3 separate regions of the Homo sapiens genome follow, and all the other regions are linked to region 2. The links come from fine-mapping of genetic effects on gene expression. A gene starts in region 2. Each other region holds a variant in brackets. All regions are shown on one strand. Distances are between the middles of the regions. Region 1 has its middle 37 kb from the start of RPL37A. Region 2 holds the start of IGFBP2 (insulin like growth factor binding protein 2). Region 3 overlaps LINC01280 (long intergenic non-protein coding RNA 1280).

Evidence for each region.
Region 1: its variant is fine-mapped to the expression of IGFBP2 in adrenal gland (GTEx, PIP above 0.99). The same link has a PIP of 0.9 or more in fibroblasts, lung and pituitary.
Region 3: its variant is fine-mapped to the expression of IGFBP2 in whole blood (TOPMed, PIP above 0.99).

Annotation. Positions count from the first base shown.
Region 1 is chr2:216,531,067-216,541,193 of GRCh38, forward strand. No RefSeq gene overlaps it. Among named protein-coding and RNA genes, the nearest start is that of RPL37A, 37 kb to the left of the region's middle. RefSeq lists an enhancer at 8,744-8,833. The variant C/T (reference allele first, on the strand shown) is at 4,659.
Region 2 is chr2:216,627,642-216,637,700 of GRCh38, forward strand. IGFBP2 (insulin like growth factor binding protein 2) reads left to right here and starts at 5,779. Exons shown (of 4, transcript NM_000597.3): 1 at 5,779-6,324. The coding sequence starts at 5,883.
Region 3 is chr2:216,580,817-216,590,943 of GRCh38, forward strand. LINC01280 (long intergenic non-protein coding RNA 1280) reads right to left here. Exons shown (of 4, transcript NR_110392.1): 4 at 9,177-10,127. Among named protein-coding and RNA genes, the nearest start is that of LINC01280, 21 kb to the right of the region's middle. The variant G/A (reference allele first, on the strand shown) is at 4,518.

The DNA of each region.
Region 1 (10,127 bases), 97 kb before region 2:
TTTTTGAGGCAGAGTCTCGCTCTGTCGCCCAGGCTGGAGTGCAGTGGCTCGATCTTGGCTCACTGCAAGCTCCGCCTCCTGGGTTCATGCCATTCTCCTGCCTCAGCCTCCGGAATAGCTGGGACTACAGGCGCCTGCCACCACGCCTGGCTAATTTTTTGTGTTTTTAGTAGAGAAGGGGTTTCACCGTGTTAGCCAGGATGGTCTCGATCTCCTGACATCATGATCCGCCCGCCTCGGTCTCCCAAAGTGTTGGGATTATAGGCGTGAGCCACAGCGCCCGGCCCATTTTGTTTTGTTTTTTAAGACAGCATACATCTGTTGCCCAGGCTGAAATGCAGTGGCACAATCATAGCTCACTGCAACCTCAAACTCCTGTGCTCAAGTGAACCCTCCTTCCTCAGCCTCCTGAGTAGCTGGGACTACAGGCATGCACCACCGCACCTGGCTAATTAAAAAAAAATTGGGGGCCGGGCATGGTGGCTTATGCCTGTAATCCCAGCACTTTGGGAGGCCAAAGAAGATGGATCGCTTGAGACCAGGAATTTGAGACCAGCCTGGGCAACATGACAAAACCTTGTCTCTACCCAAAATACAAAAAAATTAGCCGGGCGTGGTGGCACATCCCTATAGTACCAGCTACTTGGGAGGCTGAGGTGGGAAGATTGCTTGAGCTTAGGAGGCAGATGTTGCAGTGAGCTGAGATTGAGTCACTGCCCTCCAGCCTGGGTAACAGAGTGAGACCCTGTCTCAAAAACAAAAACAAAGAAAAGAAAAAGAAAAAAGAAAATTGCAGGGGGAGAATTATACATAATTTAGTGTGGTCTTGCTATGTTGCCCAGCAGATCTTGAACTCCTGGGCTCAAGTGGTCTTCCCACCTTGGCCTCCCAAAGTGCTGGGATTACAGGCATGTGCCACCGTGCCCAGCTGTATTGTAGGTTTTTTAAAAAATTCGTTGTTGATCACTTCTTTATTTTCTGGTATTTCAAGATATTCCAAACTCATTTTGTATATTTCTTGCTACAGTCCTACTAGAATCAGACATTTCTTCAAAGAACGCTAGTTCTTTTTATATTGGACAGTGTTACTAGAAACCAAGATCTGGATGCTAAGTGTACTTATAGCTACTGGGATGTTAAGTCACATTTTTAATTTGCTGAAAGCATTTAAGATTGCCTATATTTCTAGTCTCTCCTTAATTCCCTGATAATTCCTATTAAAACTAACTGGTCGCCTCACAGTTTCCCCAAAAGCCTTTGGGGTTTTACTCTTTTTGTTTGTTTGTTTTTTAAGATTTGTCCTCACTTTGTTTAAATCCTTCCTGTCCTTCAAGCTTTAGGCCTCCTTCTGCCACCACCTCCCACCCTACCACCCAGTTTCCTTTTTGACATTGCTGCCTCTTATCTCCTGCTTCAGGAGGCTCCAGCAATGCAAATGCAACAGAAGCCTGATTTATTCTTGGAAACAGTTCCATGAAAACCAAGCAGGAAGGAATTTAGAAAGGAATATAGCAGCTATATAATATCTTTTGCCTCTATTTTTTTAAAATTTAGTTTTGTGGTTTGAACCCAGATAGCCAGACTATCAGTTTTATTAGGGCTTTTTTTTTTTTTTTTTTTTTTGTCTTTCCAAGATTCAGATGGAAGCACCTGGATTGAGTTTTGTGACTCACGGCCAGAGCTGAACTTTGAATCCTGTGCCCAAGCACTGTATTTGTGAAGCAGCAGGAACAGAGAGAAGCAGTGAAGGTGGGCGATGCTTTGAGATCACTTTGTCCAGACTATCTAGTTTTACAGATGTGGAAACTAAGACCCAGGGAAGGGAAGAAATCATACCCAGAGACATATAACTCATATAACTCATTAAAGGAAGAGTTGGGTCTAGAAGAATTTTTTTTTTTTAACTATAGGATCGGCCAGGCTGTGTCTAGAATCTCTTTATTGGTGTTCCAGTGTGCTTTCTGCTGCGGTGTAAGGACTTAAGATTGTTTTCCCTAAGAAATTTGTCTTAAAATCCCCATCCTGTAACCCCGAGGCACCCAATGACATCCTGGTAGAGGGAGCAGCCCAGTTTTTCAAAGATGCATGCATTTTGGACCAGTGAGACCTGAATTGAAAGCCTAGCTCCATCCCTTAACAGCCATCTGATCTCCAGGCAATCTCTCAGATTCTCAGTTTTCTTATCTGTAAAATGGGCATAAGGATGCCTGGGCCACAGGTGTGTTTTATGGCTTAAGCAAAAGCATGGTTATGAAGGCACCTGGAGCATACCAAGCACATAACTGGTGCTCAGCATTTCTTCAAGGATCATTCTGTGGCTTCCCATGTGTATACCTGGTATCCTGAAACAAATAGAAACCTCCTGGGTTACTTTTACTTCCTTTGTGTCTCTACAAAACTGGACACACAACAGGTGTTCAAAAGCCCTTGCTGGATGAAGGAATGCCACAAAGCTCACCCCATAGGGAGACAATGGAGGGGCAAAAGGTGTTTGTGCAGTGTGAAGGAGAAGGAAAACAGGTGAGTGAGGCAGATGGGCGATGGAACAGCTGGGCCAAGCGCTCATTCTACATTCAGACTGAGTACTCTTCAGGGAGAGGGATTGCCTGAGGCTTCCCAGGGAGAGATATGCTGAGCCAGGCCTCTGCCCAGTGGTCAGGGTGGAGACTGGATAAAGAATCAGGGAGCCTGAAGCCCCTGTGCTTTCATCATTTCCAGCCTCCTGCCCCTGCTTGGGGCCTGGGCACGTTCACAGCTGAACAAGATGCGGCAGGAAACCCTGAATCAAGGGGGTGAAGGCATTAATGAAGCTGAGCTGACTTCTGGCTCTAAATTCCTTTCCCTTTGCTTCCAGGCTTGCTGTGGCCTGTTGTCTCTGCCCGGCAGAGTCTGGTGGCTGCTCTCATTTCACATCATATTGCGAGCTGGATGAAAGCAAGAACCAAGGCGGCTCAGCACGCATAAAGGCAAGTCAGAATCTGGAGACCAAGATTTATTGCTGCAGAGATGGGTGCCCTTTTTGTAGCATGACTTTTATGGAAAGGGCAGTTTTCTTTGCATTAAGTTTGTCTGTAAGAGTCAGTATGACCTAGAGCAGGGGCTAGCAAACTTTTTCTGAAAAAATTAGATAGGGAATATAGGCTTTAAGGGGCATGCAGTGTCTCCTGCAAATATTTCAACACTTCTGTTATAGCAGCCAATGTATAGTTGGCAGGACTATACATTATATAATGTATAGATGAACAGATGTGGCTGTGTTCCAGTAGAACTTTATTTATGGACACTAAAATTTAAATTCCATATAACTTTCATGTGTCACAAAATATTAATCTTTTCATTTTTTTCAACTATTTAGAAGTGTAAAAACCCACCTTGGCTTGATGGCCATACCAAAACAAGCCCTAGGTCAGATGGCAGAAGGCGGTCTGCAGACCTGTTCAGGGTACAGCATGGCCTTGGGAGTCAGACAGGCTTGGATTCAAACCCGGCCTCAGCTCTATGCTTGCTCTCCAACCTTGTTGGGTGACTTAATCTCTCTGAATCTATCCATATATAGGGACAATTTCCTATCCATATATAGGGATAATAACGTCTACCTTAGAGGTTGTTAGTGGGCAATAAGTGAAGTTACAAAGAACCTAACATGGACCATTTGAAGTCCTTGATAGGAGGATGTTATTATTATTGCTTCTCTCAACCTCATCCTTAAGAACACTAGTAATGAGAGCTGAAAGCAATATTCTACTCTGCACATCTACCCAGAACCTCTGAAGTCTATTTATAAAGGCAGTCATCATAGGCTTTTTACAAAAACTATAACGCCCTGCTTTTTGCCACAATTAACTCATCTTTTTTGTTCCAATTCACTTCAACTTAACACATGCTCACAAAGCACAACTTTGCACAAGGCTCAGAGTGCAGCAGGATTGGAAAGTTGAACTTGACACAGTTCCTGCCAAAAGATAGGTATCTCTCTAGAAGGGGACATAAGATACAAATCCAAACAACCATAAATCAAAAAAGCATGTGGAATAAGACCTCCAAGAGTGGCAATCATGTCTCCCATTTACTAAGTACCAGGCACTGTACTAAATGCTTTCTTTATATATGTTGATCTTATTATATAACCTCATGAGGAGGGGACTGTTATTATTCCCATTTGATAAGTGGGAGAATGGAGACAGGGAGATCATGAAGGTCCTTGCCAAAGGTCACACTTAAGTGAGCAGAGAACAGAGAATCAGAACAGAGATCCAGACCTGGCTGATGCAGGAGCCAGAACTTTCCCCACTGGCTTCAAGTGCCCCTGGAGCTCAGGAAGTCCATCCTGGCTCTGACGGCTGGGAAAGAGTCACAGAGGGGGCTTTCGAGCTGTCCCTGAAGCCTGGGGAGGTTTACTCCAGGCATGGATGGGAGTAGGGATGGGAGGATTCAGTCCCAGAACAGCGTGAGCAAATATGCTGCAGTGGGAATGTGGAATGCTCTCAGGCGTGTTGGGGGAACAGCAAGCAGCGTGGGAGTGTAGGGTGCATTCCGTACCAGTGTCCTTTCCCTCCGTGGACCTCCGGATGCCTCAGGGAGGGGCGGGGGAGAGGCAAAAGGTCTGATGACTTCACCAGACTTACATAAACAGGAACTTCCTTGCAACAAAGTATGAC[C/T]TTCTCATTTTAAAACAATTTGCCAGGCAGTGTATTCCACTCTTCAATCTTGCTTTTCTGTCCATAACTCCTCCCCCAACTTCCGGATTCTGCTTTCCTAGTGTGAAGGAGATGCCAAATTATGTCATAAAAACAGTGCTGGGCATAGAAGTGGCACGCGTCTGAACAGGCACTGTGTGACCCTAGGCTGGTCACTTTCCCTCTCTTGCCTCAGTTCCTGCAAACATAAAATTAGGAGTTAGGTGATAACCTGAGTGCTTTCCAGTGATAACCTTCCAAATTATGGCATACTAAGCCTGTCTCAGTAAGGGAAGCAGCCTTCACCTCTAGCTTGGAGTAGGTGATGCCACTTTGTAGCAACATTAAACAACTGCAGTTCCTGGACTTGATGGGGGCTGGGATTAGAATTTCGAGCCTTTAACTTGTCAATGTGCTGCTTAGATAACTTGCTCCTTACTGGAGTTCATGGGAATCCATGTTCTTTGCCCATCCATCCACCAACACATCAACTTTTAATTAATTCATTTATTTATCTACACCTAGTCCCTGGAGCCAGACTGCCTGAGTTTGAATCCTGGCTCTACTAGCTCTGTGACCATGGTTAAGTTACAGAACCTCTCTGTGCCTTAGTTTCTTCTTCTGTAAGACAGGGATAACAGTAGAATCTGCCTTACAGGGTTGTGAGGATTAAATTGGTTCATGTGTGCACACACACACACATAAATAAAATATCAAGTGCTTAAAACCACTCATGGCATGTAGTAAGCATGATATAAGTGTGTACTATTATTGTTATGTTTGAAGCATGTTTTAAGTAATAGTGTGTGCTGGATGCTCTGTTAGCATCTTTTTCTATGAAACATAGCACTCTTCCCTACTGCCTTACAAGGTAGGTGTTATGAGCCTGCTTTTCGTATGAAGAAATGAAGGATTGAAGAGTTGACATGCCTTTTCTGAGATGTGCCATGGACTAGGCTGCAGAGGACAACCAGACACATCAGCAGGGCCCAGGAGGGAGAGGCTGGAAAGAGCGGGCAGATCACTGCCTGCCCCTGTCACCTAATAGCCAGCTCACATGGCTTCCCTGCTCTGCTATCTGGTTCTTGCTGCAACCCAGACTCCTGCTGATGTCTTGTCTTGAACTGTGTAACCTGTCAACACATGAGAATCATTTGCAGCGACTGGGGAGTGACGTGATTCAGGAGCAGGGGAGGGGAGCTCGTGGAGAACAGAAAACTGCTGCTCCATTTTGGAGCTGCCTTTCAGCCTGGCCAAATGGGAAACTTCCTGCTTAGAAACAGTCAGGACATTAATACTCAGATGAGTGAAGACACACATGTCTCCACTAACATCCCAGGCGGATCAGACTGATTATGCCGCACTGTAGTGCAATTTCCTCTTGGTTTTTATTTCTTTGGCTCAACATTGTGCAGATGGTAAGCTCTGCTCACTGAAAATATGGAAATGATAAAATAGAAATATGAGACATTTGGATATCACTTGAGCTGAAACTTGACACTGCAGGTCTGATTGAAAATCCAGCAGGCCTCTTTCAAGACCCTTTACTGTGGCTCCTCGTTTGCTTCAGGAGGCCCCTGACAAACTTGCCCAGTTCTCCCTAAATCCTGCTATTGTTAGCTCTGGCCTGGGCCACCTGCTTTCTCCTCACCAGAGATATTCGGCCAGATGATCCTTACCATTAAAGTCCCAGGATGTGTGTGCATGAGCACACACACACACACACACACACCACATATGCACCACACACATGCGTGCACATAAGTGCACACACCACACATCACATATGTGCACACATACCACACACATGCACCACACGTGTGCACATATGCACATGCCACACCTGTACATGCACACACTGCACGCACACACATGCATACACATAAGCATATACCACATGCATACCATACATCACACACCACACACCATATACATGCATGCACATACAAAATTACATGCATCACACACCACACACATGCATGCACACATACCACACATACATACATCATACCTGCATGTATGCACACACACACACACCACACATACATCCCCACACACAAACACACATGCCTTTTAGGTGCTACCCAGGACTCCCCTTCTAGCTTTAAACTCTTCATGGAGAACTTTCTGCTGTCCACTGAACCTTTAGAGTTTCTCTTTCTTTTCTTTCTTTTTTTTTTTTGAGACTGAGTCTTGCTCTGCCACCCAGGCTGGAGCACAGTGGTGTTATCTTGGCTCACTGCAACCTCCGCCTCCCAGGTTCAAGCGATTCTTCTGCCTTAGCCTCCTGAGTAGCTGGGATTACAGGTGAGTGCCACCACGCCTGGCTAATTTTTGTGTATTTAGTAGAGATGGGTTTTCACCATGTTGGCCAGGCTGGTCTCGAACTCCTGACCTCAGGTGATCCACCCACCTCTGCCCCCCAAAGTGCTGGGATTACAAGCATGAGCCACCGCACCCAGCCACTGGAGTTTCTCTTTCATACTTTCCATGGGACAAAGCACCTTCCTCTGTCCTTTGAGCTCTATCTCCTTCCTCCTCCAGAGCCCAGTTTCCAGAGCACCTCCTCCAGAAAGTCCTCCTTATTTTCCCCATCTTTGGTCAGGCTTCTATTTGCCCTAGTGGCCTGTACCTGTTTTAAAGTCTGCTGTCAACACAGAGATGCAACTTTTTTAAAGTTTCAGGATGCCTTTCTCGTTCTCTAGGCCCTGCTGCACTGGAGCCCGGAGCCGTCACTCCTCTATACTTCTGGTGATTTCCGCATTGATTGCAGATTCCAAGGCAACTTGGGTCTCTGCAGTATCATTGGGGGCCGATTGGAATTCTTGAAACCCTCTTCCCCACCCCACTCTCTGACTAGACCAATTTTAGTTTAATCAAACCTCAAGACTATATTTTCACCTGTTCCCTTTAATAATTAACTTGCTTCGAGGAATCCAAGAGAACCCAGACACAGTGACTGCTGACCTAGTTACTGACCCATCCTAATGACGCCTCTCCCAGAGGTTCATCCTCCGGGCTCTGGCCCATTTCGTGTGAGAAAGTGAACTCCTATTGGGCACTGGTTTTGCTTCTGAAGCCAGGTGGAAATATTGGCCTACCCCCTTGACCCTACTTCTCATAGTGGTTTGGTGGTTAAAGGTCTATAGAGTAGAAAGATTATGCTGGCTTTGCTTTGTTTTAGGTTTTGTGTTTTAATCTCTTTAAACCCCAGTTTTTAATCCTATTGCTTTCAAGTCCTGATCTTGTCAAGGAAGACACCATCAATTGCACTGTTGTTGTACAACTCCAAACCTTCTGGGGCTTATCACTCTCAGAGCTGAGCTGAGGATGCTAAGGGGTCCTCAGGTGTCCTACAGCTGAGGGCAAGGCAAAGGCGTGCAGGCAGTCAGCTCCCCTGCATGGGTGCCATGCGGTCCCTGCAGCCTTGTTTCTCCTAGTTTCTCTAAGGTACTCCTGGGTCATTGCTCTCTCGATTTATTTGGGAGGGCTGCCATAATAAAGCACCATGGACTGGGGGCTGAACAACAGAAATTTATTTTCTCACAGTTCTGGAGGCTGGAAGTCCGAGATCAAGGTGTCAGCAGGGTTGGTTTCTTCTGAGGCCTCCCTCCCTGCCTTATAGATGGCTGTCTTCTCCCTGTGTCTTCACATGGTCTTTTCCTCTATACATGTCTGTGTCCAAATTCCCTCTTCTTTCAAGGACACCAGTCATAGTGGGTTAAAAGCCACCCTGATGATGTCATTTTAACTTAATCACCTCTTTAAAGACCCTATCTCTAAATACATTCACATTCTGAAGTGTTGGAGGTTAGAACTTCAACATAAGAATTTTTGGGGGAAAACACAGTTCAGCCCATAACATTTTCTGCTTTTTAAATACACACTGCCTGGTTTTAGGGCACCCTGAACCTTAATATAGCCTTCCTAGGGGATATTTCCTCTTCAGTAACATGTGAGCAAGAATACTGATCTCTTCCGATTGTTATGAAGGTTAAGTGCATGTGAAGTTTAATATAGCCTGGCTCATAAGTGCTTAGTAAATGTTAGAACCACTTAAGTAAATAAAAATGGTGATGATAATGATGGTGATGATGATGAAAATGAGCACCATTATTATTTGCAGATGTCTTAGTCATAACGAATTTCTTTTAATAGCACCTGATGATCATTTTGCTTGTGTCACTTTCATTTTACTTCTTTCTTTCCAAAAGAGGCTTGAGTGCGGCTGCCCAGCTCCCCAAGACTCAAGCCAAAGCTACTCTCTGTGCCTGCTGTGAGGATTTGAAAGCACTGTGGCAGGAGAGGCCCTGGGCCTGCCCACCACTCCCATCTCCTCTTGGTAACCAGGAAGCCCTGGGGCTCGCTTAGTCACAACTCACTCAGGCATCGTTTTTGACCTTGACACCTTCCCCTGCATTGTGCCAGGTGTCTGGGGCACTGCCAGCTCTCCCAGCCTGCCAAGCTGATTCTCTTCCTTCACTCAAATGACTGGGGAAACCTCATCTCCCCTCCAGCAGGGAGTCTCCCGGGACTGATCACAGGAAAGGTGCTGTGGGCACATAGCTATGTCACCCTCTCGCTATACACATCCGTGCTCGGCATGCACTCCAGGCACCTTCTGATAAAGGCATTCTGCCCAGTAATTTCCTTGCACACACAAGCATCCATGTGTCCATCTAGTTTAACATTTTTAAAAAATCTTCAATTATAAGGCTGAGTCTAATTTCATTCTCCATACATTACATGTACATAAACATGCCCAATGGAGAGGCTGGATCATTACCAAGTTTACCAAGCAGTCACACTTGTGCACTTTCTCTCCCTCCTTCATCCTGTTTCATGCTTCTGTGCCTTTGCATCTGCATTTCTCTGGAAGCACCTCTTCTGCCTTGTCCCTGTGTGAATGCCTGTCCTAAGGCCTAGATCAAGGCTCTAGGAGATGCGTCATGGACCCCAGGCACAGCCAGGACCCTCTGCTTTGATGGCTCCCTTGTGCCTTCGGTGGCATCTTGTCTGTGCTTACCATACTGTACTGTGATTGTCCATTTGTATAGCTTTCTCAGCTGGCCTGGGAGCTCCTCAAGGGCAGGGATGATTCATTCAACTTTGCATCCCCAGTGCCTAGCACAGTGCCTGGCTATAGGTGAGTGAAGCCAGAGAGGAGGGCTCTGGGATCCAGCCATGCTGGGCAGTGCCTTTCATGGCATTTTCTGTTTGGCCTCACCTCTTCCTTTGTCCTGTTTTTAGCCTAATTCCTTTCAAGGCTCTGGCATGGGACTCTGAGCTCATTTTCATGATTGCTTTAAATATTGGGGCTGTTGGCATGCCAACACGGGGACCCACGCTAAGGAGGGAGAGGAATTCTCCAGCTCTCTGGGTCCTGCCGAGACACAAGGAATGTGCCAGAGGCAGGGGAGGTTTTGAGAAAGTGCCAGTGTAGGTCGAACT
Region 2 (10,059 bases):
ATCCATGTTGCTGCAAAGGACATCATTTCATCCTTTATTTTATGGCTGTGTAGTATTCCATGGTGTATATATACCACATTTTATTTATTCAGTCCACCATTGATGGGCACCTAGGTTGACTCCATGTCTTTGCTATGGTGAATAGTGCTGCAGTGAACATATGAGCACATGTGTCTTTTTTAGTAAGATAATTTATTTTCTTTTAGCTATATACCGAGTAATGTGATAGTTCTGAGTACCCTGTGAAATCTCCAAACTGCTTTCTACAGTAGCTGAACTAATTTACATTCCCACCAACAGTGTATAAGCGTTCCCTTTCCTCTGCAGCCCTGCCAACATCTGTTGTTTTTTGACTTTTTAATAATAGCTATTCTGACTAGTGTGAGATGGTATCTCATTATGGTTTTGATTTGCATTTCTCTGATGATTAGTGTTGTTAAGCATTTTTTCATATGTTTATTGGCCACTTGTCTGTCTTCTTTTGAGAAGTGGCTTTGCCCACTTTTTAATGGGGTTATTTGCTTTTTTCCTTGTTGAATTGTTTCTGGATATTAAACTTTTATCAGATGCATAGTTTGCAAATATTTTCTCCCATTCTGTAGGTTGTCTGTTACTCTGCTGATAGATTATTTTGCTGTGCACAAGCTTTTTAGTTTAATTAGGTCCCACTTGTCAATTTTTGTTTTTGTTGCTATTGCTTTTGAGGCCTTAGTCACAAATTCTTTCCCAAGGATGATGTCCAGAATGGTGTTTCCTAGGTTTTCTTCTATAATTCTTATAGTTTGAGGTCTTACACTTAAATCTTTAATCCATCTTGAGTTCAGTTTTGTATATGGTGAGAGGTAGGGGTCCAGTTTCTTTCTTCTGCATATGGCTAGCAAGCTATCCCAGCACTATTTATTGACTAGGTACTTTCCCCATTGCTTATTTTCTCAACTTTGTAACATTATGTCTGGGTTCTCTATTCTGTTCCATTGGTCTATGTGTCTGTTTTTGTACCAATGTCATGCTGTTTTTGTTCCTGTAGCCTTATAGTATAGTTTGAAGTCAGGTAATGTGATGCCTCTGACTCTGTTCTTTTTGCTTAGGATTGCTTTGTCTATTTGCACTGTTTTTTGGTTCCATACGAAAAATACAACAATTAGCCAGGCATGATGGTGGACACTTGTAATCCTAGCTACTCTGGAAGCTCAGGCAGGAGAATCGCTTGAGCCTGGGAGGTGGAGGTTACAGGGAGTTGAGATCACACCATTGCACTACAGCCTGGGCAACAGAGCGAGACTCTGTCTCCAAAAAACAAAAAAACAAAAACAACTGCTTATTGTAAGTTTTCATTTATGTGAAAACTCATCCACGCCAGCAGAAGTCAGGACAATGTTTACCCTTGCAGAGCATGGGGATAATAACCAGTAGGGGCATGAAAGGTTTTCCATATGCTGTCAACGTTCTTTTCTTTATTATTTATTTATTTACACAGCATTTCACTCTGTCATCCAGGCTGGAGTGCAGTGGCATAATTACAGCTCACTGCAGCCTCTACCTCCTGGGCTCAAATGATTTTCCCACCTCAGCCTCCTGAGTAGCTGCGACTACAGGCATGCGACTACAGGCATGCGCAACACCTGGCTTATTTTTTTATTTTTTGTAGAGACGGGGTTTCACCATATTGCCTAGGCTGGTCTTGAACTCTTGGGCTCCAGTGATCTTCTTGCATCAGCCACCCAAAGTGTTGAGATTACAGGCGTAAGCCACTGTGCCTGGCCAATGTTCTTCTTGATCTGGGAGCTGGTTATACGGTGCGGTCAATTTGTGGATATTTATCTGGTTTATCTACTTTTTTTTGCATGTATATTTCAATAAAATATTTTTAAAAAACATTCCTCTCCTGATGACTTAGTGGAGAAAATCTCAGCTTGGGTTTGACTTAACTTGAATGCTTCTTCTAAATTGTCTCATCTTTCTTAACTTGGGAAGAGTGTGCCAGCTTCAGAAGCTTCAGCAGGCAACAGTATCCAGCTCGAATCAAATAACATTGTCTTGTTTTCATTGTGTTTTATGGTTACCATCTATAGATGGCCATCAATACTACATTTCCATTTATGGTAGTGATATACAATTTCTTTTAAAAATGATCGTAAGCAAAAAAAAAAAAGAGTGAATTGCCTTACTTTAAAAAAATTATGTAAATAATAGTACAGGTGGTACCTAGTTACGGTAAACCATGTAAGGGTGGGGTTTATAAAACGTGGTTGAGATGGAAAAAGGCAGGGATTAAGGGGAAGGGAGAAAACCAGTCTTAGCCTGTCCCCATCTCTCAACCAATCCTCACTGCTGGGCACAGACAGGCTCTCAAGCCTGAGGACATACCTTTGCAGAGGACTCATGAGAAATCTAAAGTGAAGAATGCTCCAGGAACAATGGGATGGGCAAAGCCAGAGACAACAAGCGGAGAACCTGGATTCACTCAACAAATATTCTTTGAGTATCTCTGTGCAGGCACCGTTCTAGCCCTGGGCCTACAGTAATAAGCAAAATGGTTAAGTTGTAGGCCAGCCAGTAACCAGCTCTGGGTTCTGGGCTGAGTCCCCCTACTTCTCTAGGCTTCAATGGATTGAGGATGCTCTGTGATTCAAGCCTCTGTAGCAGCTGGCCTTTGGGGAGTGGGATTCTGAGTGAGGCTCAGGAGAGGTTAGGAAAAGCCTTAAAAATATGGGATTATTTTGTTATGTGTTTGCGTGTATTTAGGGTGGGGAAGGGTAAAATTGGCCATTAACCTGGGAACTAGGAGAAAAGAATTGGGTGTGGCCTTCAGGCTCATTAGAAAGTGAAATATCATTGAGTACTTTGCATTTGTCAAGTCAGCATCACTTTGCCTGCTCATCTCCACTGCTCTTGGCTGAAAGATCAAGAACTTTAAAAGGAGGTGGAAAGAGAATGAATCCCAAAAGATAAGTGAGTAGCTGCATGGGAATGAATGAATCAATGCCACTCTTAGCCTCTTAATAGACTCATCACAGCCTTTCATTCCCAGCTCCTGGGCATTGCAATTAAGACAGAAAGAGAATGAGGGGCCCTGCCAGGAATATTTTGAGAGACTGTACTTTTCATTCACTCAACAAATATTTATTGAGTGCTTACCTGGTGCCAGGCAGTATTTAGACCTGTGGGCTGTCCAATTTGATAGCTACCTAGCCACACATGGCTATCAAACATTTGAATTTTGGCTACTTCAAACTGAAATGTGCTGTATAGCATACACATCAGAACTTGAGGATTTAGTATAAGAAAAGGAATGTTAACTCTCTCATTAATTTTAGTGTTGATTACCCATTGAAATGATAGTATTTTGGATATACCGCCAAATTAAGAATATTATTAAAATAAATGTCATCTATTTCTTTTTACTATATTTTAATATGGCTACTAGAAATTTACAATTGCACATGTGCTCACGTTTGCGATTTGCAGTAGATTTCTATTGGACAGCGTTGTGCTAGACCCTGTGCCTACTCTGTAGGAGCTCAGTGGGTGGGACCAACAGAAACACGTTACAAAGCAGGCAGGAGACACCAGGGAGAATGAAGGTGGAATGACCATGATCCTTCCTGTGTCTTATTTTTATTTTTTTTAGATTGGCACTGTACATAGTGCTTTTTACTTCTTTTTTTTTTTTTTTTCAGATCGGCACCCTACATAGTGCTAACGATTTTTTTTTTTTTTTACTTTTTTTTCAGATCGGCACTCTACATAGTGCTAATGATTTCCAGAAGTCCAGCTCTGTCCATCTCTTCCTCTGCTCAAACATGGATGCTGTATCCTTACTGCCCAGCATATTAAGCCAAAGCGCCACAGTCAACTGGATTTCCTGCCTCCCCTGCTGCTCTCTGCAAGCATCCTGCACTCTGGCTGAAGTGGACTTTCTGATCCCCAAACTCATTTTCCCATTTCTCTCTCTCTCTCTCTCTCTCTCTCTCTCTCTCTCTCTCTCTGTGTGTGTGTGTGTGTGTGTGTGTGTGTGTTTTGAGACTGATTCTTACTCTGTCACCCAGGCTGGAGTGCAGTGGTGCGATCTTGGCTCACTGCAACTTCCACCTCCTGGGTTCAAGCGATTCTCCTGCCTCAGCCTCCCAAGTTGCTGGGACTACAGGCGTGCATCACCGTGCCTGGCTATTTTTTGTATTTTTAGTAGAGATGGGATTTCACCATGTTGGCCACGGTTGGCCAGGCTGGTCTTGAACTCCTGATCTCAGGTGATCCACCTGCCTCGGCCTCCCAAAGTGCTGGAATTACAGGTGTGAGCCACCGCGCCCGGCCCCATTTCTGTGTTTTTGCTTCAGGTGGTCCCTCTGCCTGTGCCCTTGCTAACCGCCCATTTCCTCTGGTAGAATTACAAGCTTCAATTTCAGCTCCGACTCACCCAAGAAACTCCCCTTTCCTCAACCACCACATCACCTCTCTACCAAAATATTTCTTTTCTTCAAAGCCTCTGATAAACATTTATTTATTTATTTTTTATCTTACCAAAGTCTTTCCCGATAACTCTTCCCAGCTTGGCGTCTTAAGACCAGGTACTTGCCTTCCTGGAGGCATCTAGGTCACCTTCAGAGCCAGGTGGCCATTGGGTTAACTAGCTGTTGAACTGAATCAAACAGGCTCTGAGCCTTGAAGTCAGAAAGAGCCAGAGTGGAGGGGTCTGGGGGGAAGAGGGGCGCTGAGGTATAGGGAGATGAAACCTGCGGTGGAGGCAGCTTAATGGTCCACCTGTCACCCAAGGAATCTCTCTGACAGGGGTCTTTGTTAGGGTCACACCCCAGGAGATGGTTGATTATGGCTGAGTCCAGCCTGGAATGATGGGGGTTGGGGGCAGCTTGGGTAGATGACTCAGTAAATCAAACAGAACAATGAAAGGAGGTCATGCTTGTCCATCTGCATTATTGAAGACAGCCATAAATGGCCTTACCCCAGAGCGGGTCTGTCACACCTGGAGAGCTGATCTGACCTCTCCAAGACCCCTGCAACTGAGTGTTCTGGGATCTGTCCTGCAACAAGTGCCTCGAGATTTGTAGGTGGGGGCCCAGGGTGCTAAGGGATTATTTTAGCGGGCGGAGAAGGGAGGGGGTCTGCAGACGAAGGGGGCAGGTTTTGCGGGGCACTTAGGGTTCTCATAGGTTGTAGTCACGAGCTCCCAGGTTTGGAAAACTGCAATAGTCACTAAGACCATTCGGGGCTGTTTGGGTCTAGCTTGGTCTAGACGGGTCTGAAACTCCGCAGGACCCACCCAACAAGAAGTCATTGTTCCAAGCCACGTGTCAGTGGTGGGTGATACCCCAGGATGGAAGGAGTTGGTATGAGCCGACTGAAATCTACTTGAAGGTCAAAACGGAGCCTTATGTCTTTTGTGTTCCCCAGCGGTTAGCCCAGTGCCGGCCACAGGGGAAGCGCGCAAACGAAGTCCTCGCGAACTGAACTGAGAGCAGACAAAAGCACGCGCTCTTCTCCACCGCCACGCCGGTCCTACCCAAACCCGCGAGTTATCCGTATTCTCCTTCAGGAGTCATAGTCAGGCCAGAAGAGTGCGGAGGGACGGGGCCCGGGAAGAGCAGGGAACCCCCAGAGCCCGCAGCCAACGCGGAGGTGGGCGAGCGGGCGTGCGCGCACTCACTTGCCGGCGCGAGGGAGTGTCGGGGGGGAAGGGAGTGGTCTCCAAAAGGGGGAGGGGAGAAGGCAGGGGGCGGGGAGAAGCCGGCCCTTTAGGACCCGGCTGCGGCGGCGAGGGAGGAGGAAGAAGCGGAGGAGGCGGCTCCCGCGCTCGCAGGGCCGTGCCACCTGCCCGCCCGCCCGCTCGCTCGCTCGCCCGCCGCGCCGCGCTGCCGACCGCCAGCATGCTGCCGAGAGTGGGCTGCCCCGCGCTGCCGCTGCCGCCGCCGCCGCTGCTGCCGCTGCTGCTGCTGCTACTGGGCGCGAGTGGCGGCGGCGGCGGGGCGCGCGCGGAGGTGCTGTTCCGCTGCCCGCCCTGCACACCCGAGCGCCTGGCCGCCTGCGGGCCCCCGCCGGTTGCGCCGCCCGCCGCGGTGGCCGCAGTGGCCGGAGGCGCCCGCATGCCATGCGCGGAGCTCGTCCGGGAGCCGGGCTGCGGCTGCTGCTCGGTGTGCGCCCGGCTGGAGGGCGAGGCGTGCGGCGTCTACACCCCGCGCTGCGGCCAGGGGCTGCGCTGCTATCCCCACCCGGGCTCCGAGCTGCCCCTGCAGGCGCTGGTCATGGGCGAGGGCACTTGTGAGAAGCGCCGGGACGCCGAGTATGGCGCCAGCCCGGAGCAGGTTGCAGGTAACGCGGTCTGGAACAAGTAGTTGGGAGAAACTTGGAGGGCAGCGGAGAAGCCCGACGGGCGGCTGGACCTTACGGACGGTTTTAGGGGCGGCAGAGCCGAGACCTTGGACCAAATCAAGGGGGACTGTTGCTAGCGGGACGCGGAAGTCAGGCCCGGGGAGGGGAACTGGAGTTAGAGCAAGTGGAAGAGCCCTGGCGACTCATTTGGTGGGGATGAATGGGGAGAGGAAAGGCATCCCTGCTGCCATAGTTTTACCCGCGTGGAACGGACCCAGACTTCTATTCTGGAGGAGGGATTTGCTGAGAAGGGGGCCGGTGGTCAGATCCATGGGAGTAGGAACTCGAATCTTATTTGGGGCACTGCTTGAGGACCCAAGGGTCCTGGTGGGATCGCTGCTGGGAGGCGGAGGCTGCGGGGTGCCAGTGACACCAGGAACCTTGGAAGAGGAGAGGGAGCTAGGAGGAGGCACCGGCGTCCCAAGGGGCCCTTCCTTCTACTGGGGTTGTGAGTTGGAAAGAAAGGACTTGGTACTTTGTAGGATGAGTCGCTTAGGAGAAAAATGAAAACCACCACTACTATTTCTCCATAGGGAACGAGCAGGGCTCTTGCTACCACGTTGAATGGAAAAATAAAAGGGAGGCATTTGGTAGGCGAGGGGTCTCCTAGCAGCTGAATCAATGTAACTTAAGCCCGATCGCCGGCTGCATTCCCTGGACGGGGGCAGCCAGGCTGTGCGGTTTCGCATCTGGGCCCCAGATCGAAAGGCAGGAGAGATGCGTTGCCACCCCCCACCCCCGCCCCTATCTTAAATTGAGGGACCCTTTCCTGTAGGATAGAATGAGGACCCGATATTCTTTGTTCAGGGGCCCTCATCCCTCCCAAAAAGTTATTTGAGGGACACAACCAGGCTCTAAGGAGGTTACTTTTTTTTTTTTTTAATTACGAAAGCCTCCTGCCCCAGTGGTCGGGAGGAAGCTGTAATTATTTTCTTTCCTCTTGGAGACAGTGGTGAAATGTGTCCACTGCCTGCTGCTGTTGTTGAAAAAGCAAGTGAGTCTTAAGTTTCTCAAACTTAAAAAGAAAAAGTGAAAAGAAGAATGCTTGCTTTTTAGCTTCTGAGGTCTTCGTAAGCCCCCCACCCCATGCACCAACCCGCCTCCCTTCTCCTGGTCGGCTATTGTTTTTTTCCCTGTTCTCCTTGAGAATGGAATTAGGGGTCAGAGTTGAAATCTTTCTTCTGTTTCTCTAGCACATTTTGCTCTGGAGTACAGAGCAAGTTAGGGCTTCCTCTGAGTGGAGCCTCTCAGTCCCTTTCTTCTCCCTCGGCTCGCTTCCTTCCCTAGCCTGCCTGGAAGTTAACCCTTCCCTCCTGCTTCTCTTAGAAAGTAACAATAAAAGGAAAAAGCCCCCACGAAATCCTTTCACTGCGGGGTGCCTGTCCCCCAGTCATGCGTTCCTCCTCATCACCCCTCGTGGTCCACCGGGGAGGTGCTGTGCAGTTTCTGAGCTGAACTCTGACAAACTAAACATCTTCCTCAGCAGGGTGAACTTTTTGAAAGGCCTCTAAGTTCATAGGATGGTTTGGCTGCTGACTGTTTTAATAAAGTGTGTGATGCCTTTCCTTCTTTAACGTTTTACTTTTTTTTTTTTCCTACTCTTCATTCGTCTTATTCTAAGCCTGAAAACCAATTCTACTTCCCAAATCCCTGAAGCCGGTTAGGGTCTTTAGCCAGGAACAGATGCGGCAGATTTTCTCCCATTCACTTTTCCCTGGAGCCTGAAGGGGGTGGGGGGTAGTTGTCAGGGGAGGCCAGGGACAATGGGGTGAGTTCATGGGAAGAATGTCACTCTGGATTTTCTGCCTGGTTATGGGACTCCCTTCCGCCAGCTTGCCCCAGCTGCGTTCTCCTCCCCAGTGCCCAGACGCCTTCCGCATTTTTGTGCACCGGCCTGGGAAGAGGGGATGTTAAGCAGGGGTGGAAGGTGGGGGGTGGGGCTGGAAGCTGAGTGGGTGCACTCAAAAGAAGTGACCAATGTCAGGGGTGCCTGAGAAAGAGTCGGGCTGGGGGAGGGGAGCACTTTGGGAAGGAGCCTGAGCTTGCAAGGGTGCAGGAGAAAAAGGGGTCAAGGTTGGAGGCTTTTGTGTGGGAGAGGGTCTTAGGCTGGGGCAGAGACTGGAGTCACTGGATGGAGAGTGCTGGGTCCGAGTTGGGTGGGGCCTGGCCCAGACGGAGATCTTAGCACTGAATCCTCTGCCTCCCACTCCATCTCCCGTCCCGTCTTCTCTCCTCTCCGAAGAATGAGCACCCCCCCTCCAGCCTGCATTCCTCTTTGAGCAGGTTGCTTTTGAGAATTTTAAACATACCCTCTTATTTCGAGGCAGCGAACCTCAGCAGTTCCGGCTTTGCTGTTAGCTCTTTTGTCTTTGTTCCCGGGACTCAGGGGCTGTGTTGCTGCTGGCTTCCTGGGGATGGCAAGGATGCAGGGGTGGGGGTGGGCACATCAGTGGGTGGAAGGAGTGGGTGGTGGTGAGCCTGTATCCCACGGGGACGATGGGCTGGGGCTTGTTGGTTCAAAGAAACTGAGAAGTCAGTCTTGGGGGAAGGGGTGGGTAGGCCTAGAAGAAAAACCGAAAGGAGACCCTGAGATCTGCTTGAAGTTGGGACTCTAAAAGCGTGTGTATGTGTTTGGTGGTGGAGTGGATAGAAGTGCCTAGAAATGTCAGGGTCGAGGAGGGAACAGGGTTGGGCCAGTCCAGGCCCTTTCAGAATTAAGGCTGGGCTAGACCGGTTCCTTCAGTATCTCCCCAGCCTCCTTCCCTACCGTGTACAATGCAGGGGATTATGCTGAGGGGCGGGGCCGCCCGAGTGGCCGTTTGGCCCGCTGCACGTATAAAGGTGCTACAGAAATGTGTAGTCGTTCAAAGTCCCAGGGCGGGCAGACAGGCAGGCAGGCAGGCGGGCGGGCGGGCGGGCGGGCGGGCCTGGGGAGGCTCTGCATCTGCAGTTGCCGGGGAAGAATAAAGGGGGGAAGAGGCAAGCACTGATTTACAGTGGTTCAGTGCAGCTTCAAAAAAAAAGGGGGAAAAAGCAATGGGACTTCTGGCTCAGAGTACTGCTTTGCATCTCGTCTTGCATAAATTTGCATACTGAGTTCAAAGTCGTAAAATAGACTAGGGAAATGAGTGGGATCTACTGTCACTGATTGTTAACACCACTACCTTCCACCTCCCCTCCCCCCATCTGGACAGAACTCCCGGCACTAGTTCTGCTAAGCAGCGCTGCCTGAGTCACCAGTCACCACTGTTCATGAAAGAAGGAGATGGGGAAGCGCCTGTCTAGGAGACCAAGCAGGGTGTGGCAGTGTGCACCCTGGCCTCGGAGGCAGGGCCTCTCTGAAGGGTGTGGCCCGACAGATTCTGGACCAGTGAGGCAAGTGGTGTTCTTTCTGACGCCTGGGGCTGCCGTTGCCCATGGTGGGCTGCAGTTTGAGGAAGCTGCAGAATCCGGGTCTTCTTTGTTTGAAATTTCCCTACTCAGCTTCCACATATGTCCAAAACATTTACTGTGATAAGTCCCTTTGTGTGGTGGTAATGACCCACTTCTTTAGACAAGATATTTGAGGAAGGTTCGAGAACAGAAAAATTCTACTTAACAATGTTAAGGAATCTGAGAAAAGTGGGGCACAGGAGTCTCTAGGTTAGAATAGGTGGTAGAGCCTGGAAGGAGAGA
Region 3 (10,127 bases), 47 kb before region 2:
AACTTTACATTCTTTTAAAAATGTTTTTAACATCAAGTTCTCTGTGGCTTTAACATCTCTAGACCTAAGTCTAGAGATGTTAAAGGAGGACCTAAGTCCTCTTCTGTAAATTGGGATAGCAATAATGTCTGGCGTGTCCACAGCCCCTCACAATTTCCATAATCTCACTGGATCTAGACTTCTCTCACTAGGCTCCTAAGAATTCTAGTCTCTTCCATTCACAAGGAGCTATGAGGCCATTGGTGAGTGGATGGAGGGTGAGGGTGTGCAGGTGCTGCTGCTCAACTCAGACTCTCCCTGCCCCAGAGTAGAAGAGGCAGAGAACAAAGAGGGTGTGGTGTGGGTATGGGCCATGCATGACGGTGGATAGATCGGGACTGTCATGGTAGCAATAGCAGCAGAGTCAAGCTAAAGAGAAGCTGGACAGAGCAAAGCGCTGAAGAACATTTTCTTGACTTTCCTTTGGTCTATGCAAAGTGCCATTTACTCATTCATCCATCCGTCCATCCATTAAGCCTTCACTGAGTCCAAACTGTGCTCCAAGCACACAGTGAAGAGTTAAAGTTAACTAAGATAAGGTGGATCCCTCCCCTCCTAAGGTGTCAGAGTGGGTAAGGGTGTAGGTTTGGGTATCAAAAACCTGAGTTTGTCTTCCAGGTCTGTCACTTCTTTGGGTAAACTCTTTAACCTCTGTGTGACTCAATTTCCCTATGTGTAAAATTGGAATAATAGCAGTCCATATTAAAGGGATGCTCAGAGGAAGGTAAAGCACTTAGCATAAGGCATGGCACAGAATCAGTATTCCATAAGTGTCAGCTATTGTGTTACTATTAAGTGATGAGGCAGATATGTCAATAATTCACTGTTAGCTGACCTGGAGCCCTGGTAGATGGAGCCCATTGAAGGAAGCTGGAACATTCAGGCAGGAAACAGGCACGAAAAAAGAAAGGAGAGAAGATGACCCAAAATGCCACCATGGCATGTGTGTCTTGCTTTTATTTTTTATTTTTATTTTTTGGCTTCTACTTGGGCAGAAAAATAAACATATAGAAAAATCCCCATGAGAGGAGAATTCAGATGCCACGAAAATGTAGAGGGTACTCACACAAAGCCAAGCAGGTCTACCTGTGACCTCCCTCTATCTTTCAAAGAAGCCTGTGAGGTAGGTACTATCTACCACCTGTACTAGCTTCCTGGGGCTGCTGCAACAAATACCACAAACTGGGGGGCTTCAAACAACAGAGATATATTTTCTTGCAGTTCTAAAGCCCAGAGGTCTGAAATCAGTATTGCTGGGCTGAAATCAAGGTGTTGGCAGGTGTATCTGTTTGTTAAGGTTGCTATAACAAAGAAACACAGACTGGGCAGCTTAAAAGACAGAAATTTACTTTCTCACAGTTCCTGAGGCTGGAAGTCCAAGATCAAGGTGTTGGCAGGACTTTTCTCCTGAGGCTTGTCTCCTGGACTTGCAGGGGGCTCTTGCTCACTTCTTTGTCCTCACATGGTCTTTCCTCTGTGTATACACATCCCTGCTGTCTCTTCCTTTTCTTTCTTTCTTTTTTTTTTTTTTTTTTTTTTCTTGAGATGGAATCTTGCTCTGTCACCCAGGCTGGAGTGCAGTGGTGCTATCTCGGCTCACTGCAACCTCAGCCTCCTGGGTTCAAGCGATTCTCCTGCCTCAGCCTCCAGTCTCTTCCTCTTTTTATAAGGACATCAGTCCTATTGTATCAGGACCCCACCCTAGCAGCCTCATTTTAACTCACACACCTCTTTAAAGACCTTATCTCCAAATATACCTACATTCTGAGGCACTGGGGGTTGGGACTTCAACATATTACTTTCGGGGTGGTGACACAATTCAGCACATAACAGCAGGACCATGTTCCCTTGGGAGGCCCTGAGGGAAAATCAGTCCTGCTTCTTCCATACTCTGGTGACTGCTGGCATTCTTTGACTTGTGGCCACATCACTCCAATCTCTGTCTCAAGGGCCACTTTGACTCCCTCTTCTGTCTGTGTAATCTCATTCTACCTCCCTCTTACAAGGACATTTGTGATGGCATTTGGGGTTCACCAGGATAATCTTTTTATCTCAAGATCCTTAACTTAGTTATATCCGTAGAGACCTTTTTTCCAAATAAGGTAACATTTGCATGCTCCAGAAATTTGGATTTGGATATCCTTTGGGGGGGCCATTTTTCAGCCCCCCAAAACTGAGGCTCTGCAGGATGAAACAACCCACCCAATGTTATGGAGAGAACAGAGGCAGAGGCAGGTTTCCGAACACAGGGGACAGAGCTCAGTCCACGGTTCCTTCCAGTCCATGTATTAATAGCTGCACACCTTTGAAAGCAGGATGAGAGACATACTCTGCTAAGAAGGACGCCCTCACCCAGAGTTTTTCCTGCAGAGAGGAGGAGCACAGAAGCTCAGCAGAGACCGTGGGACCAGAGAATCATATTTGTGGTCAAGCAAGTTCCTAGAAGCAAGGAATGTGACGTGAGCTTCAGATCCAGAGAAACGTAATTTATCTTGGAGAATGACTCAGGTGCAAAGGGCCAAAGCTGCTGGAAGAGCACTGGGATGGTGACTCTGGGCAGGCCGCAGCTGAGTCGATGTTTACTCTCTTCAGAAATGAAGCAGTGGGCAGGGAAAAACTCACTGTGTCTCAAGCACAGAGACACTGGGAGGTAACCAGGCTCGATGAAGGTGGCCGCCTGCACAGTGGTTTGGACCCTGGTGTATATGTGTGTGTGTGTGTGTTTGTGTGTCGGGGAGGGAGGGGACAGGGCCAGGGCCAGGGATGCCGACAGGTGCTTTTCTGTTTGAGAAACATGCTTGCTACAAGCACAAGGAGCAGGTAGGATCACCAACCCACTGTAGTTTGCCGGGGACTTTCCCTGTGTAAGCACTGAAAATTCTATGTCCCAGGAAACCCCTTTTTCCTTGACAAACAGACACAGCTGGTCACTGTAGCTCCAGTACTCATTTGAATATAATGAATGCCTCAAGTCTATTTCACATGGCAAGGCCATGGCCATGGCTCTGTCGCCAAGCTGAATGGGAAGGAAAGGCAATTTGTCTTTGCAAATTGCCCCAAAACAAGCAATATAAAAAATGATGCAGCTGGGCGTGGTGGCTCACGTCTGTAATCCCAGCACTTTTGGGAGGCTGAGGCTGGCAGATCACTTTAGCTCAAGAGTTTGAGACCAGCTAGGCCAACATGGTGAAATCCCACATCTATTAAAAACACAAAAAATTAGCCCGGCATGTGCTTGTAATCCCAGCTAGCTGGGGGACTGAGGCAGGAGAATTGCTTGAATCCGGGGGGTGAAGTTTGCAGTGAGCTGAGATTGTGCCACTGCACTCCAGCCTGGCCAACAGTGAGATTCTGTCTCAAAAAAAAAAAAGACGCATTCATTATGTATGAGCTTGGCTGCCCTAACAGAGACTGCAAGTAACAGTGGCTTAGATGTAGTAGAAGGTCATTGTTCTTCCACTTAACAGCCGGGGCTTACACAAGTCAGAGTCAGCGTGGCAGCTCCATGAACAGGGTTCCCTCTGTCTGGTTGCTGAACCTTCTCTAGGGTGCTGCCCTGGTGCGCATGACCTACCACCTTCATGCTCCTCACCGTCCTCCGCCCTCTCAGCTCTCCCTCTCCACGTAAAGAGTTCCCTGTGTTACAGTTCCCCTGTGTAAGTGTCTAGAGAGCTTTCTGCTTTCCTAATTGGATGCTGACTGATACAACCTGTGACTTCAAAATGATAAGAGGTACAGAGAGAACATGGGCAGAGGAATGCCACAGACATACCCGTGGCAGACATATCTCAAGAAGTGAGACCAGAGAGAGGAGAAAGGGCATTGATGGCTTGATCTGAGACGGGAGGAACATCTTCTGGTTGTTGTTCATGAGCAGGTAGTTTGAGCTGCATGGAGCTGTAGAGTGGAGCTTGGGTGGAAGCTGATTCATGGGCTCCTGAGTGGAGGCTCCACAGATGGGAGTGGACTCGGGCAGCAGTCAGGGCTGAGCTGGGTGAGGAGGGAGGTCCTCAGCAGATTGGCTAGAGGAAGCAGGGGTGAAGCCAGGAAGGGTCAGCAAGGAGCAGGCAGTGGAGCAGTCAGAAGATCCTGCCTGAATGTTGGAAAGAGGAGGGAAGAGCAGCAGAGTCAGTAAGGAGAGGTGAGAGGCTCCTGGATGAAGAGGGAAGTCAGCAGGGGGCACCAGTGAAAGTCCCGGTTATGGGCTGACTTGTCTCCCCCCGAAATTCATATGCTAAAGACCTAACCCCAGTACCTTAGAATGTCACTGTACTTAGAGACAAAAACCTTTAAAGAGGTGATTAAGGTGAGCCCTAATCCAATTTGACTGGTTTCTTTATAAGAAGAAGAAATGAGGAGCCTGGCCAACATGGTGAAACCCCGTGTCTACTAAAAATACAAAAGTTAGCTGGGTGTGGTGGTGTGCTCCTCTAATCCCAGTTACTCATGAGTCTGAGGCAGGAGAATTGCTTGAACCC[G/A]GGAGGTGGAGGTTGCAGTGAGATGAGATTGCACCATTGTGCTCCAGCCTGGTAACAGAGTGAGACTCTATCTCAGAAAAAAAAGAGAAGAGAAAATGGGGACACAGAAATAATGTACAGAGGGAAGAAGCTGTGAGGACACAGGAAGAAGATGGTATCTACAAGCCAAGGACCATCTACAAGCCAAGGAGAGAGACCTCAGAAGACAACAACTCCACTGATACCTTGACCTTGGACTTTCAGCTTCCAGAACTGTAAAAATTAATTTCTGTTGTTTATAGAACAGTCTCCTGACCTTGGTCTGTGCTGTTTGTTACAGCAGCCCAAGCTGACTGATACAGTCCCTTACTTATCAGCGTATGTTGAATTCTTCCCAGCAACTATTTCTGGGAGCATTTTGCCTGATCAAACTTTTTCTTCTTTCTCTTTATTTTCTTTTACATATTAAAATTTATTCTTTTAAAAGAAAATTTAAATTTTATTTTCTTTTAAAAATGCATATAAAGATTATTAAATATAGATGTCCTTGTTATGCAGAATAAACAACTGTAAAAAATTTTTTTCATTTGTTTCAAACTTTCTTGATAAAATAATTAAACATTTCGATGATAGTTAAAATTTGACACAACCCTCAGCCCTTTCCTCTTCTCTCTTTCTTCAGAGGCAGTCACTATCAAGGAACTGATGTGAATTCTTTCAATCCATGTGTCCATGAATAGCATGTAGTATTAGTTTGTGTGGGTTTTATTTTTTTGCATTCACGATACATGTGTTGTGAATTTTGACTCTATCACTTCCAAACTTCATGTTTGCTACTTCCCAAAGTCTAGCAGGCAAATCATGGTACGAGAGATGTTAACTGGTACATGACTAGTAAGGCATTAAAGAACATTGAATGGGTCAGGCGCGGTGGCTCACGCCTGTAATCCCAGCACTTTGAGAGACCGAGGTGGGAAGATCACTTGAGGCTAGGAGTCCAAGACCAGCCTAGGCAACAAAGGGAGACTACACCTCTACAAAAACACAAAAATTAGCCGGGTATGGTGGCATGTGCCTGTAGTCTCAACTACTCAGGAGGCTGAGGTGGGAGGATTGCTGGAGCCTAGGAGCTGGAGGTTATAGTCAGCCATGATCACCCTCTGCACTCCAGCCTGGGTGACGGGGTGAGACCCTGTCTCCAAACAAACAAACAGACAAAAAAACATTGAATTGAATAAGGACATATTATTCCCTGCAGATTAAGTCTCAGGGGGACTAAGTATTAAACACTTGCTAATTTCCTTCCTTAACAAAGAGGAAGTACAGACTCTAAGCTAGCCAAGTTATCTGGCTAGATTTTCATACCATTGTCATTTTCCATGTGTTTATGTATTTGTTTACTTATTTTTTGAGACAGAGTCTTGCTCTGTTGCCCAGGCTGGAGTGCAGTGGTGCTATCTTGGCTCACTGTAACATCCACCTCCCAATTCAAATAATTCTCTTGCCTCAGCCTTCCGAGTCACTGGGGCTACATGTACCTGCCACCACACCTGGCTAATTTTTATATTTTTAGTAGTTGGCCAGGTTTGTCTTGATCTCCTGGCCTAAATTATTGATCCACCCACCTTTCTTTTTCTTTTTCTTTTTTTTTAAGACGGAGTTTCGCTCTTGTTGCCCAGGCTAGTGTGCAATGGGGCGATCTCAGCTCACCATAACCTCCGCCTCCCAGGTTCAAGTGATTCCCTTGCCTCAGCCTCCTGAGTAGCTAGGATTACAGGCATGTGCCACCACACCCAGCTAATTTCATATTTTTAGTACAGACGGGGTTTCTCCATGTTGGTCAGGCTGGTCTCAAACTCCCGACCTCAGATGATCTACCTGCCTTGGCCTCCCAAAGTGCTGGGATTACAGGTGTGAACCACTACACCCGGTACCGCCTTGGTCTTTCAAAGTGCTAGGATTATAGGCGTGAGCCACTGTGCCTGGCCCATGCACTTATTTTTATGATTAATTTATACTTAAGATGAATAATATTTGTCTTTCATTTTTGACAGTAGAATAAAGCTACCCTATAAAGTAAATTTATTAAAGTGTAAAAATTAGGTAGATTTAAATTTAAAGTATTAAGCCAATAATGGTACACATGGCATATGAATACTGAAAATTAGTGAAGGGCATTCATGAATGGGATTTTGGGAAAAGCTGATACCTACATTTATTGAGCACTCTGACTGCCACTGGCACTATAGAAGGCATTCTATATGCAATTTGTTGTAATCACACAACAACCCTGAAGAAGGGATGATTAGTCCCCTTTGGCAAATTAGGAAACTGAGGCCCAGAGGGGCGATGTGAGTGGCTGAGCCCACGTTTGAACTCTCTGATCCGAGACTCCTGTGCCTAGGCGATGTGTAATGTCTGAAGTCTTGTCTGTAAGATGAGTCTTAAGGCACACCTGAGCTAATGACTTCAAAGAGCTGCCTAGGGGGGCACATAAGGCAAGGATGCTGTCGTGCTTTGAAACATGTCAGAGTGGCTTCATGGCACATGCTAGTGCAGAAGGATCAGTGCTTGGGTCTGATGCTCTGCTATTGCCTCCTTGAGAATCTTAATACTTTTTCTTTAGCTGTGTTTGTATTTCAAGTCTGGTGGGATAATGCACAGGAGGCTTGACACCTCGTCTCACCTGCGGCCCACCCCCGACTGTCTCCCTGGGATGGGTTCTCTACAGCCCAATCTGGCCTCCCCCTCCCCACCCCCAACTCCATAGTGGTGGCTACCTTCTGCCCAGTGTGTTGATGGGCCACGTTCCACTATTAGTCGTCCTGGCCTGGATGCAGCCACAGACAGGGCTGGAGTTGGGCACGTTCCGCAGTATCTCACATGGGGCAAGGTTATGTCCCTCCTCAGGGTTGCAGTGCTGTGGCTTTTGCAGTGGACAACTGAGTATGAGCCTCTCATTCACCCTCATTCCAGGGAACCTGGCACCCAGGCACCCTGGCACCCTGGCATCAAGGTTGCAACTCCTGGGGAGATAGCCTGTCCTCTACAGGCTGAGGCAGTGGCTCATCTACAGGAAGGGGAGATCCACTTCCCCGCCCCCTGCCAGTCTCCACGTCCCATTTTGCTTTTGGCCTCACAAATGATGTAGTCGGCCCTGAATGCAGTACAAGTATAAGGAAGTGCCTAATGTGTGTGTCCCTGTGTGTGTTGTGTGTGTCCATGTGGAAAAGCAAGAAGACAAAGAGAAAAGCTCAGGAGAAAGGAAAAGCCTTCTCTTCCCTTGGGAAACCTCCAGGGCAGGGGAATCCACAGAGATATAGCCAAGCACACAGGACTGATGTCCCAAAAGGCAGCTCTCCTCTCCAATCCAGCAACTTGCTATGGGCCTCTGTTTATGCATCTGCAAAATGAAGGGTCTGGGAATGGGATGGAAATGGGAATCTATGGATTCTCTCCCCAGAAAAATGGGGATGTTACATGGGACTTCAAACCATCATAGCTGCCCCACTATGTGCCTGTGAAACTCACTGATGGGCCCCAGGGGCTCCAGGTTAGGAATCCCGGGACTGGAGAGTCTCTGATGTTCCTCCTGACATCCAACCGGGCAGGAAGAAGCAAGCAACCTAAGAAGGCTGAGTGGGTGGGAGGCGGGCTGAAGTGTAAAGGCACCAACTGCAACAGAAGAGAAAGCCTTAGTGAGACCCGTGAAAAGAGCAGAGTAATGAAGATGGTGCAGTGTGACGGTTATAAAATCCCCCTGGGAAATGAGGCAGTCAATTAAAAAGAAAGAAAATGAGGACAGACAAAGAAAAAGTCCATCTCCATAGAGTAGAAAGTGACAGGTTAGCAAAGCTGTCTCATGAGATGTGTGCACTAACAGTCCCTGGGGACCTTACCTGACTTCCATGGCGGGAGTGACAGCTCTGCCAGCTTGCTCTCTGATGGGCCACTGGAAGATTTCTGGGGCTAGCTGGCCAAAGCTCTGGAGAGAAAGAGTGAGTGGACACCAGCTTCAAAGAAAGTCACTCCAGGGCCCTGGGGTAAAGTAGCATAGAATAGAGATTTGAAGTGAGTGCAGCAACAAATGGCATAACAAAATGTTTAAATTCAAAAAAGGAAGCCCAGTGTCTGGGGAAATGAGCAAGTAAATGACCAGACACAACATGAGAAGGCCCAAAGGGAAAATCGGGGGAATTTCTGATATTCACAGAGATGTGATAAGTGGATGTTTTTGTTTGTGGGAGAAGACACGAAGGCTTGTGTTACATGTTTTGTAATTTAATTGCATAATTTGCACAAAATTTAAAACTCACACAAAACAGGACCAAATGTTATTCCCGGATACCTAGATTGAAAAAGAAGATTCTGCGAGGAGTGGACCAGGCTGAACACAGGAGTGGAATTATTTTTTCCAGAGTGTAGGCCCCCGTGAGAGCCAGAACCACAGGTCGGGAAGAGTGTTTGGACTCAGCCCTGGGTTTAAATCTGTCCTCTGCCACCCTGAGCACTGTGATTGTAGTTATTTAAGTTATTTAAATTGCAGTTTCATTGTTCTTCAAAAGGGGAAAGTAATATTTGTCATGCCTGTGCCACAGGGTGGTTTACAGGCTCTTATGGAAAAAATGTGTGTGTAATAGCTTTGTAAGCTGTAAATAACTTCAAATGTAAGACATTATTGCTTTGCTCATTTATTTGTTTATTACCAGTCCAAGTACTCCCATTATCCTAGCTAAACATAGTGTTTTCACAAAGTTAAACAAAGTTAAAGTACCGTAATAATTCAGTCCAGTCTGTCCTTCATTTTATTACTGTTATCAGGGGAACATGGGCTGGAATGGGGCTTTATCCAGTCATTCTTTTCACTTCTTTTTTCTTCTATTGGATCCATCATTCATTCAACACACAGTAACTGAGACCCTGCTGAGGGACAGACATCCCACAACTCACCAGGGCAATGAAGGCATGTGGCATTGTCTTTCCTGGGGGAGCTTGTTGGCTAGTGAGGGTTTTACATCCCATCAACAGAAAGGAAGGAACTCTCCCCACCTCCATTCACACTGAAGCTCAACTAAGTTCTATTTTAATTTTTGCCAAGCCAAAGCAGATTGTCCTCTGTTTCTAGAGATTAATTTGACGTCTGCCTGGGCCTCTGCTGGCTTTCCTCATTTTAGTTTTCCTGAGACCCGTCAGTTTTCTGCGTGGTGTGTAAATTGGCTTTCGAGACTCACAGTCTTTAGGCTTATTCTCAGAAGTATAGTCTCCATCTTCAGTATGTCTAACCAAACAAATTCCTCACTCCTTAGGGCTAAACTACTGAAACCATCCTTGGAAAGACTACTTTTAATTTTTTGATTTGTCACAGCTATGGAATATGATATCCTCTCCTTAAGCTGTAAACGCCTTAAAGACAAAAGCCTTTTTTCTCCCAAATTGTCCTAGATTCTAATTCCCACAGCTCAATATATGTTGAAGTGCTGGCCATGGGGTCTGTCATCTCTCTGGGGGAACCAACACTCAGGAAGGATGCGTCCACATTTCTCCTTAATCTGCTGCTTCCTTGGGGTGACTCCCTAAGCCAGAGCTGGGAACATGAAAAGCTGAGTCTCAGCCACGGTCATGCCCTCTGGA